2 separate regions of the Homo sapiens genome follow, and region 1 is linked to region 2. Evidence: fine-mapped expression QTL. Tissue or cell type: whole blood. Region 2 holds a variant in brackets; the other region holds the start of a gene. All regions are shown on one strand. Distances are from middle to middle.

Evidence for each region. PIP is the estimated chance that this variant, and not a neighbour inherited with it, causes the effect.
Region 1: TGFA starts here. The variant in region 2 is fine-mapped to the expression of TGFA in whole blood (TOPMed, PIP above 0.99).

What each region holds. Positions count from the first base shown.
Region 1 is chr2:70,550,910-70,555,909 of GRCh38, forward strand. It overlaps TGFA (transforming growth factor alpha), which reads right to left and starts at 2,917. Exons shown (of 6, transcript NM_003236.4): 1 at 2,819-2,917. The coding sequence starts at 2,858. It overlaps LOC124907824 (a long non-coding RNA gene), which reads left to right and starts at 1,799. Exons shown (of 2, transcript XR_007086906.1): 1 at 1,799-2,483. RefSeq lists a silencer at 2,978-3,047.
Region 2 is chr2:70,514,065-70,519,064 of GRCh38, forward strand. It overlaps TGFA (transforming growth factor alpha), which reads right to left. Exons shown (of 6, transcript NM_003236.4): 2 at 795-848. Among named protein-coding and RNA genes, the nearest start is that of TGFA-IT1, 35 kb to the left of the region's middle. RefSeq lists an enhancer at 210-712. The variant C/G (reference allele first, on the strand shown) is at 2,116.

The DNA.
Region 1 (5,000 bases), 37 kb after region 2:
CCAGAAATTACCTAGGTAGGTTTTTAGGTTGGGTGATATTTTTCGAAGGAATGGTAAAGAGCATGGAGATGAGATAAACGAAAACCTACAAACTCTCCCAGTTATACAACTCACATAACCTGCAATGATGTCTGGAATTCTATGGGGCCCAAAGTAACAACAACAATGATGATGATGATAAGATTAAGATCTTACTACATACCAGGCACCCTTCTGCATACATTAAATATATTCAACAACCCTATTAATATCCCCATTTTGCAGGTGAGAAAAACAAGGCATAGAAAAGCTAAGTAACTTGCCCAAGATCACACATCTTGCTCCGTGAACACAGAGGAGGAAATGTAACTGGAAATGCCAAGCCCCCGTGCGGTCTGCCTGCCAGTGATGGAAACCTGACATGGGAGGGCAGCCACCACAGGAACCTGGGTTATGTTTCCAGTGTTGCCATTTGGGCAACAGTCTTCACATTCTCTTACTGAAAACATTAATCAATGCTCAGGTTCCAAGTAATCAAACATTAACCGAGACTCCTAACAGCCAGTTCCTTCTCAGACTAGCCCCACGGAGGTTTCCTAGATCTCGGGTAGCGATGGAACACTGGTTGATTCTCCTGGAACTGCCTTCAACTATTTAAGAAAAATCAGAGGGGAAAGCAGCTTTGAAGGAAATGTGCAAAGTAAAGCTATATGTGGGAGGCAGCAGTTCTAGTAAACGCACAGAACTCACAGCTGTGATTTTTCTTTTAAAGACATATAAATAAAAAGGAGTCCTCACTGGTGTAAATTACTCCTGCCTTTTTTTTTTCTCCACTTTTTTCAACTGCTCACATTTTGGAACTGTGTGAGCAAGTTTTTACATATTGATCAATCTTTTAAAGTTTATACATCATTTTCTTAAAGAAGGAAACAAAGATCAAGCTGAAAAGAACATTCAGGCAAAAGAGAAAAATTACATGATGAATGAATGCAGTCTTTGTGGGCGAGAATTCTGGGATGGGAGTGTGGGGTGTAGGGACAGCTTTCAAACACTTACTCAAATGTGCTTATCTTCATCATTTCCTGCCTCTAATTTTTACCGAATAACCACCTTGAGATCCCAGGAATTCAATAGGAAACTCAATTTAACAACAAGTTCCAGGGTATTCCACATAATCTCTCTTTAAGGCAAAGTCCCAAAAGAGAGATGGGACTATAATGACCACAAGTTAGGTGACTTTTCATATTCACATTCCTTCCACGTTCTTCGACAATCCTGGTCCAGTTACTTACTGTGGACCCTGTGTGCTTTACTTTCCTCTGCTATATAATGAGAATAATATTAACACCTTCTTTATCCGGTTGGTGTGAAAACTGCATGAATAAATGTAAAGCACTTGGACTGTGTCTGACACAGAGTAAAATGCTCGAATAGCATCAGCTGTTATTACTACTACTACTTACTACTATTATTTGCAAAAACATTACAAGGGATAATTATATCCAGGAAGCTTCCCTTGTATTGGTAATGTTTTATTGCTTTTTCTAAAATTTAAATCAGAGCAACAGTCAATACATGCACACAAAAAAGGCAATTCTTCAAAAATGTGGGGGAAAAGCCTCCCATACCCATGTTACCTGCTGGTGAGTTTCAGGTAAGGGTGTAGCTGGGAGCATCCGGTTCCAAGACTGCCTTGTATTTCTCTTACAGGATGCCTCCCCTTCTGCTGCGGTTTTTAATCAGCGTTTCTAGGGCAGGCTTGCAGGCGGGGCCGCGAACCCCCTGTAGTTGTACACGGAGCTGGGTGAGGCTGCGGCTCTGGGCATTTCTGGGGAGGAGTTCCATGGCTTTCCACAGACTCTAACCACCCTGCAGCGAGCCGCATGCTATACGGGTTAAACTCGGGGCATATCGAACGAACAATTCACTTCACGGAAGACTAGCAATAACCAGGACACCTGCGCTATTGATCAGCTATCTCAACACCAGAGAGACCCACCAGCACAAGGGGCAAGAATTGGCCAGGAGGCGCGCGGCGCTGCGCCCTCACCGCGTCCAGACAGACCCTTGAACTTCACCGCCAAAAAACGCACCGCTCCGCAGACCCGACCCGGGAGAGGGGTTTAACTTCCCCTCACCTTTCCCATCCCTCCTTCATTTCCAAGGACATACTCAAAGGAAACTGGCAACACTCGGTCTAGGGTTTCGCTCCTGCCCTCGGCGGACACCGAAACCACTTCTCCCAGGGAAGTTAATTAAAGGAACCATTAATCCGCCCAAAAATCCAAAACCTACCCCCAAAGCTCAAGAGCTCTGAAAAGAGATCGAGGGCGCCTCTGCCGATCTTGAACATCTCTGCTCGTCGCTGGGGCTTAGAGGTGGGCAGGGGGTGCCAAAGGGGCGCAGGCAAGACCCGGCCAGAGGGTTAGACGCCGGCCCCCGTTCCGAGGCGGCCCAGTCTACACGCCAGCGACGCCGGCTGAGCCGGGCTTGGAGGCAGCCAGGTAAGCAGGTAGGTGTAGGCATGTGTCTGAGCAGACACACAGCTGCGGCGGATTAAAGTTCAAGCCCGTTCACACTCCGCTTCCCCTTCCCAGGTGTTCTCACGCACGGCCCAGGCAGCCACTTTCCCGGGGAAGCCTCGGCGCTCGACCGGACAGTCCCCTCTTTGTCATTCTTAATGACTCCCCTTGCCTCCCAGGCGCCAACCCATTGAGACTACTCGCTTCTCTCCACTCTCCCAGGCGGGCGCAGAAACCCCCGGAAAGGGGAACTCGGCGGGGACCGGGGGAAGCAGGGTGTCGCGCGGCGCAGGGGGCGCCGCAGCCGGCGTACGTACCCAGAGCGAACAGGGCGAGCTGTCCAGCCGAGGGGACCATTTTACGGGCGGGCGGGCAGCAGGCTCTCCAGCCTCCTGCCCTACCTGCGGTGCCCGAGTGGCGGAGCGGCGCCGCGGTGCGGGGGAAAAAGACGCAGACTAGGCAGGGCCTGCCCCCGGCGCGGGAGGGCGGAGGGAGGACCGAGCGCCTCTCTGCTGGCACTCGCCCCGCAGCGCTGCCCGCCGGGCGGAAATAGGAAGGCGGCTACCGTCACCTCCTCGCCACTCGGCGACCGGGGCACAGCTGACCCCCCCCTCCCGCCCCGATGGGGGTGCCCCCCTGAGGGCACAGAGGGTGGGGGTTTGGGGTAAGGGGCGGGGACGCTGAGCGCACCGAGCAGGGCGCGGGCTGCTGGGCGGGGCGACCTGGGATCCCAGAGCCTGGCGGCGCGAGCCGGGCACCCGGGCCGACGAAAAGGCAGGAAGCGCCTGACTTCAGACACCACCCCCGACTGCCAGCGCCGTGCGGCAGCGGACTCCAGCGTGCGGGGTCGGCGCCGGCCGCGTAGCCGGATTGTCCTGGGCCGCAGTGGCGGCTTCCAGGCTCTAGGCGGCGGAGCGGAGCCGCCCGGGCACCCGTTACCTACACCGAGGGGCCGCTCCTGGGGCATCTCTGGGGCGGGGAAGGCTGGAGGCTGGGGACGCAGCCAGGAAAGGGACCTGTGAGTTTCGCCGGCCGCTTGCCAAGACTTGGCTCAAGGAAAGTGGTCCCCTGAATCAATGAAGAATTTGTTAAACCAGGTTTCCCACCTGTGCCACAGTTCCCATCAATTCTGGCAACGCCTGCCGCCTTACCTCCCAGGCAGGCCACATCGTTAAGATCAGTCTTCGTACTTCTGGCCTGGGACTGATAAAAAATGGGTCTCTGTGACGAATCTGGTTATATGGCACCACCAGCTGAGGCCAAAAGCCTGCTAGCCTGCCACCAAGTGTACCCCGAAAGAGGGGTGTGTGGGCCCGAGTCACCTGGGTGGTCCTTTCAGGATTTGTGGCTCTGAGGTGGCCCCTGGTGCTGGAATTTGGGGAGGTGGAGGGGATAGAGGGAAGACATTCTGGGCGAAGAGTGGAAGATCCATAGGTTCCTCGGTGACCCTCATGGGGACAGTACACCCGGGAGATTCATGTTCTCCAGGTACCCGGAGCTCACGGACTGACCCTCTTCTCCTGCCTCCTCTGGCCTACGTGCTCCGGGTAGATCCACTTTCCTTGAAGGTGGGGGTGGGGGCTGTTGGGCCTGGGGAATCTTTTGCTGTTTACTTGGGGAGGCTCAGGCTCTCACGGTTGACCTCTGCCCAGTTTGTTTCATGTAAGTAGAGCAACCTAGTTTCAAGAAGGAAGCACCAGGCCATTGGTCTCAACATTTGGGCAGGAAGCACCAGTGTAAATCATTCCTTTCAATAGATTTGTCGGAGCATACTTTGTTCTTTTAGGGTAAATCTTTTCCTTGGTCCACCCCATGCATGTACAAGGCACACATGCACTTCCTTTAGTAGGTTGTCCCTGACTCCCACTTCCTTCAGGTTGATCTTGACCTGCTCTGGTGGTTTCCCTGTCTCCTCCCTAAACTAGTCTGCTTTGGCTACAGAAGGGGAGGAATCAGGGGTTCCCCCACCCTTCTCCTGTTCCCCAGGACTAGAGAAGGACCTGACTCCTTGCTTCCTACTGGAACACGCAAATCAAGCTCACTGTGGCTGAGGGATGGCTGCCCAGCCGGCTGAGGGTCATGTTCAGCAGTTTCTGCTTATCTGTCCCCTACCCCCAAAGTCAGAGGTGGAGGGAAGTAGCAGAATCAAGTCAATTTCCTTCATGATTGGAAAATATTTTAAATCAAGAGGTAACTTGCAGGCCAGGCATGGTGGCTCACACCTGTAATACCATCACTTTGGGAGGCTGAGGTGGGTGGATTGCTTGAGCTCAGGAGTTCGAGACCAGCCTGGGCAACATGGTAAAACCCCCCATTTCTACTAAACATACAAAAAATTAGCCAGACATGGTGGCGTGCGTCTGTAGTCCCAGCTACTTGGGAGGCTGAGGCACGAGAATCACTTGAACCTGGGAGGCAGAGGTTGCAGTGAGCCAAGATTGTGCCACTGCACTCCAGCCTGGATGACAGAACAAGACTCTGTCTCAAAAAAAAAAAAAA
Region 2 (5,000 bases):
AAGAAACTAGAGCCACCGTAAATATCCAATGGGAAATGTTTCATTAAATCACCCATGTTCACTTTAATGAGACAGCATGACATTTTAAGAGAAGAGATTTCAAGACTTTCCAGCAACATGGAACAATGCACAGCCCCAACATTTGAGCTTAAAAAGCAGGAATCCACATTGTTTCCTCACCAGGACTACTCGTATAAAAATATTAACACACATGGAGAAAGGGCAAAAGCAACATGCAAATCAAACAGAGGTTGCTCCCCTGCAGTGCTGTGGCCACTGATGGTTTGCCTCCTACATGTCCCAAGCTCTCCACTATTTTGATTTAGAATCTTTAAAATAATAATAAAAAAAAATACCGATTTTTTTTTTTTTTTTACTATAAGTATTAAAACGTAAACCAGAAAATAACTAAACAAAGGTCACCGATGAGGGTTCAGAAATCTGGGTTCTACTTCAGGTGGACTATTACGAGAGTGGGGAAAACAGCTGGCCCCAAGCTCTGGGGTCCTGCAGGCCCTGTTTTGGCACACTTGCCCACAGGAATTGTCTGAACAGCTGAAGAGAGACACGTAGGGGAGGCCCCTGAGGGGGCCAGGAACAGCCCCCCCTTGGGCCTGCAGTTAAGACCTTCCAGTGAGCGCCTCCTCGCCCCTGAGGAGGGGGCAGAGAGGACTCCGGGACAGGCGTGTGCTCGGTGGGCAGGAGGCCAGGGAGGGAGCTCTTGAGGAGCCACACAGCAGCAGGCCCGCTCCCTTCCCACACACGATCCACACACCCACGGCAGCTGCACTCACCACTCAGCGGGGACGTGCTGTTCTCCAAGGCCTGGCACGCAGCCAACACAATACCTGTTGGGTGGAGGAGAAGAGGGAAAAGGTCAGAGTCTGCTTGGCAAATGATGTCCTCAGACGCTTAGAGGGCAGGCCCTTTGACAGGCAAAGGTTCGGTAGTTTCACAGAGTGGCCGGTAGACAGGCTCAGCTACATAATTTGTGGATATCAGTGCAAAATGAGCACATGGGACCCCTTGTTGAAAAAGTAAGAAGAAAATGCCCATGAAAAGCACTGAAATCCAGAGCCTTCCACTTCTTCCCAGTCTCTCTCTCCATCTGTCAGGGTGGTTTTGGCCTTTGTTTTTTCTTAACACCTTATAAATATATATTTTTTTATGGTGGGAAAATATACGTAACATAAAATTTACCATTTCAACCATTTTAATTGTACATTTCAGTGACATTAAGTACCTTCACCCTGTTGTTCATGTCATCATGTTTGTTTGCTATTTATGTCATTGCTGTCCTTTGGGTATGAGGATACCCACAGGTTGAGTGCAGCCTCTCACAGGTATACCCCAGGGACAGAGTGTGTAAGGGAGCAAAGGACCCACTCCCTCTGGGGTTTCCTTCCAGCTGGCAGCCGGGCCAATGTGCTGTGACCCAGCTGGGGGTTGAGGGGTCTAGTCAGGTATCTCTTATTCCCAGGAAGTGGCTGTCCCAACCCAAGATGGATGGGTGACCCCTTAAGGATATTGCCTCCTCCCTGCCAGGATGTACTAGGTACCTGGATCAGGGGGAGTCAAGCAGCTCACCCCTCTCTAGTTGCCCACTGAAGATGCCATGGAGCTGCCAGTCCAGAATGGGGACAGCTGCCACCATGCCGTACCCTGAGATGCCATGTACTTAACCCCAGGCCCTGCCAGGGATAGATCATGGCAGGAGCAAGAAAACCTAGGGGAGGCAGGGAGATATTAATAAGCAGGACCACGGGAACAAAGCCTCTAAGCCCCCAGTGCATACTGTATTGTCCCACTGGACTTCACCTACAAGACGCAAATTTAAAGATAAAACTACAAGATTTTTAAGACTGCAACTGCAGAGTGTTAAACCTCAAGCTCAGGGCCCTTGTGAGCATGGGGTCCTGTGTGACCTATACAGGTTGCATGCCCATAAAACCAGCCCTGCCAACAGATGACCTTTATGTGCCTTCAGATTACAGTACTCGAGGTTTCTGGAAATGGTAGCAACCTTCCAATGAAGAAGGAACCTCTTCTGAGTTATGCAATCAGCATGAGCCACATTAGAATGACTTCCCAAAACTGAAACGCAAAAAGATGCCA[C/G]AGTTGCTGTGCCGAGGGGCTGGGCCTCTGACAGGTTAGCTCAGAAAGCAAATGAATCAAGTTAGCACAGGAAACAAGCAAAGTTCTGTCTGTTACAGGATCGATGCAGCCCCCTACTCTGCAGGCTGTGAGGGTTCCTTGCCCCTTTTCACTTAGGGTGTAGACACAGAAGTCCTGACTCTCAAAGAACAAAACACACTTGGAATAGATAAAGCAATCATGCTCCCGATGTTCCTTCCAACCTCTGAAATGAGAAACATAAGAACTTCAGACTGCTTTTACTGGAGGTCTGGCATGGACCTCCGAAAGACTTTTACAGAATCCTAAGCCAGATGTTTGGGCTGGAGTTGGAGGCAGGGCAGGGGGACAGGGAGAGAAAATCAGTAAAATCATGCATGTCTTCCCTGTGCAATTCTTTCTTGCTGTCCAATTGATGCTAATTTTGGAAGCAAGGCTCCCAGGGCCCCTCTGTCACCCACACACCAGTGTTAAAACAAGGCATCCCCATCCAAGCCGGGAAAAGTCAGCAGTTGCCCCCTTGAAGCTGGGGAACAGTCATGTTCTGACTTCGCTGGCACTGCCACAAACCATCCTTGGCTAAAGTCAGCCAGTGACTCATAATAGTGTTCAAGGATGACACCGGGGATGCTTTGCATACTCTGAGGGGAAGCGTGACTTGCCTGTCACAAACTGCCCCGAACTAAAGAATTATCTTCATGCCCTGTTCCTGCTCCCTATCCTGTCAGTCAGGGTGAACCCAGTCAGCATGGTTCCTGGGCTCCATGTTGGCCTCTGTTTAAGCAAAACCCAGACAAGAAAGCAAACACTGTACAGCTGAATCCAGGACAAGACACTGATGAGCACCACTGCTCCAGGAAGATGAGGGTGTGCAATGGGGGCCTGCTCCCCAGCCTTGGGGCAAATTACTTCACCTTCTGTTCCTCACCTGTGAGCTCGCAGCTGCTAAACTCACAGAGGTGTTTTGGGAATGAATTAAAGTTTGCAAAACCACGATGTTCCACAGATGAAAGACACTGGCTTTTTATTCATAATTTGAGCAACACAAGAAGAATAGGTCCTTTCTATACCCTCACGGAAAACAACTTCTTGGTGCCCTGGGCTTCACTCTGCAATCTTGATCCATGCCTAGCATCAGCTGAGGCCCTGTGATGAGCGGCAAGGCCTCTGCTTTGTCTTCATCATGTGGTGAACCTAAGAGGACCCTGGAGCAGGAGGACAGGGCTCAGGTCTCTCACTTTGCAGGTGGATGTGTACCACTTTTTGGGCATGACCTAGTCCCAGGCCCAGTGCTAATGTTCTGCATGTGTTCTCTTACTTAGTCCTTATAACAACTCATGACATAGGTGCCTCCCAACCTTCTGGTCCAGCTGGTAGAAATGCCCAGTCATAGAGATGAAGAAACTGAGGCTTAGAGAGGTTAAGAAATTTGCCCAAGCTCCTGCAGCCACATTCAAACTCAAGTGTCTCCAACTCCCATGCACAAGACAGTGTCTAATTACCAGACCACACCACAGTCCTTCTCACCATGGCCAGTTGTGACACAGGTGTGTATTCAGCAGTCACAAACCCCAAGTTAGTCCAAACAACAGACTCTGCAGGCCCAGCGGCTGAGCCTTGATCCGTCTCTCCCTGAGAGTCATGCATTGCCTCTTGGGGATTCTCCCACTGCCTCCAGTCTCCCTGCCATGAACAAGGTCTAATGAGGGGCAAAGGTATGAGCACCCAGGCTCACCAGCTGCCCAGCCCTCTGGCCACACGACTGTGCTTAGAAAGCCAGGCTGTGTGAGGACCTTCCAGAAACATGTGGCCTTGGCAGGCTCCAAGGGTCACTCCAAACAAAGGAAGGATGGGGAGAGGACAGCCACAGGCACCGCAGCCACATGCAGTGGCTCAGGGAGACACACAGTGCACAGGCCTGGTGGCCCACAGCCACAGGCTCCTCCTGCCTAAGTTTCAAAGCAGGTCCTTGCCCGCCGCAGGCCCTCGGGACAGGAAGGCTTCTAGGAATCCCTTCTAGGCCACTCCTGCTGGCATCCTATTTCTGTTTAAATAGCTCCAAAGAGGGAAATCCCAAGACTGTGGACTTCAAAAAGAAAAAAGAAAAGAAGGGGGTGGTATCAAGGGGAAAACCACATGCAACGGAAGAAAACCCTTATGAAAGGCTGATCCTGTGTCCCTCAAAATAGAGTGGGAACCTGGTCTGCCCTTAGGAAGGACAAGTGTTGCCATGCTTATCGTTCAGCTGTTTGGTACTCAGGTAAATGTTCCCAACAGAAACAAGGTAAAAAGGAGGCTCACCCATTTAGCTCATGAGTCCCCAGAAGTGGAGCCATCCCAAAACCTATGTGCTGATGTGTCAATGGGAAATGCTCTTAAGAGAGGCTGGACACCCCTCTCCCCTGGGCCCCAGAGCAGGATACCCCCACTCCAACTCCTCAATCAGGCATGGGACTAGCAATTCTGCACAGATACCCAGGCTGTGCCTTCAGCGTCAGACACCCTTCATCATCAACCACCCATTGGCCTGGTGACCACCTCTTCTGTGGACACTCAGCTATAGTGCCTGGAGCTGGGAGGAGCATCCTCTGGCCCCTGACCACCTCAGCAGAGTGGACCATGTCCTGCTCTGGCCTCTGCTGGGGCTGGGGTTTGCTTTCAGGCCCCTATGTACTCCACTGCATGGATCAGTTGCTCCCTCTAGAATATCAAGAGCTCTACCTTTCACCTGTTTGGGATCCTCTAAGCCAGACTTCCTGCATGAAGGGATGAAGGGTAAGTTTTTGTTTTCAGGGGGATGTGGGAGGATGAAGAGGCTGCAGCAGGTCCTTTTGGATGAAGGATGTTCTGGATTCAGACGAGGTGGT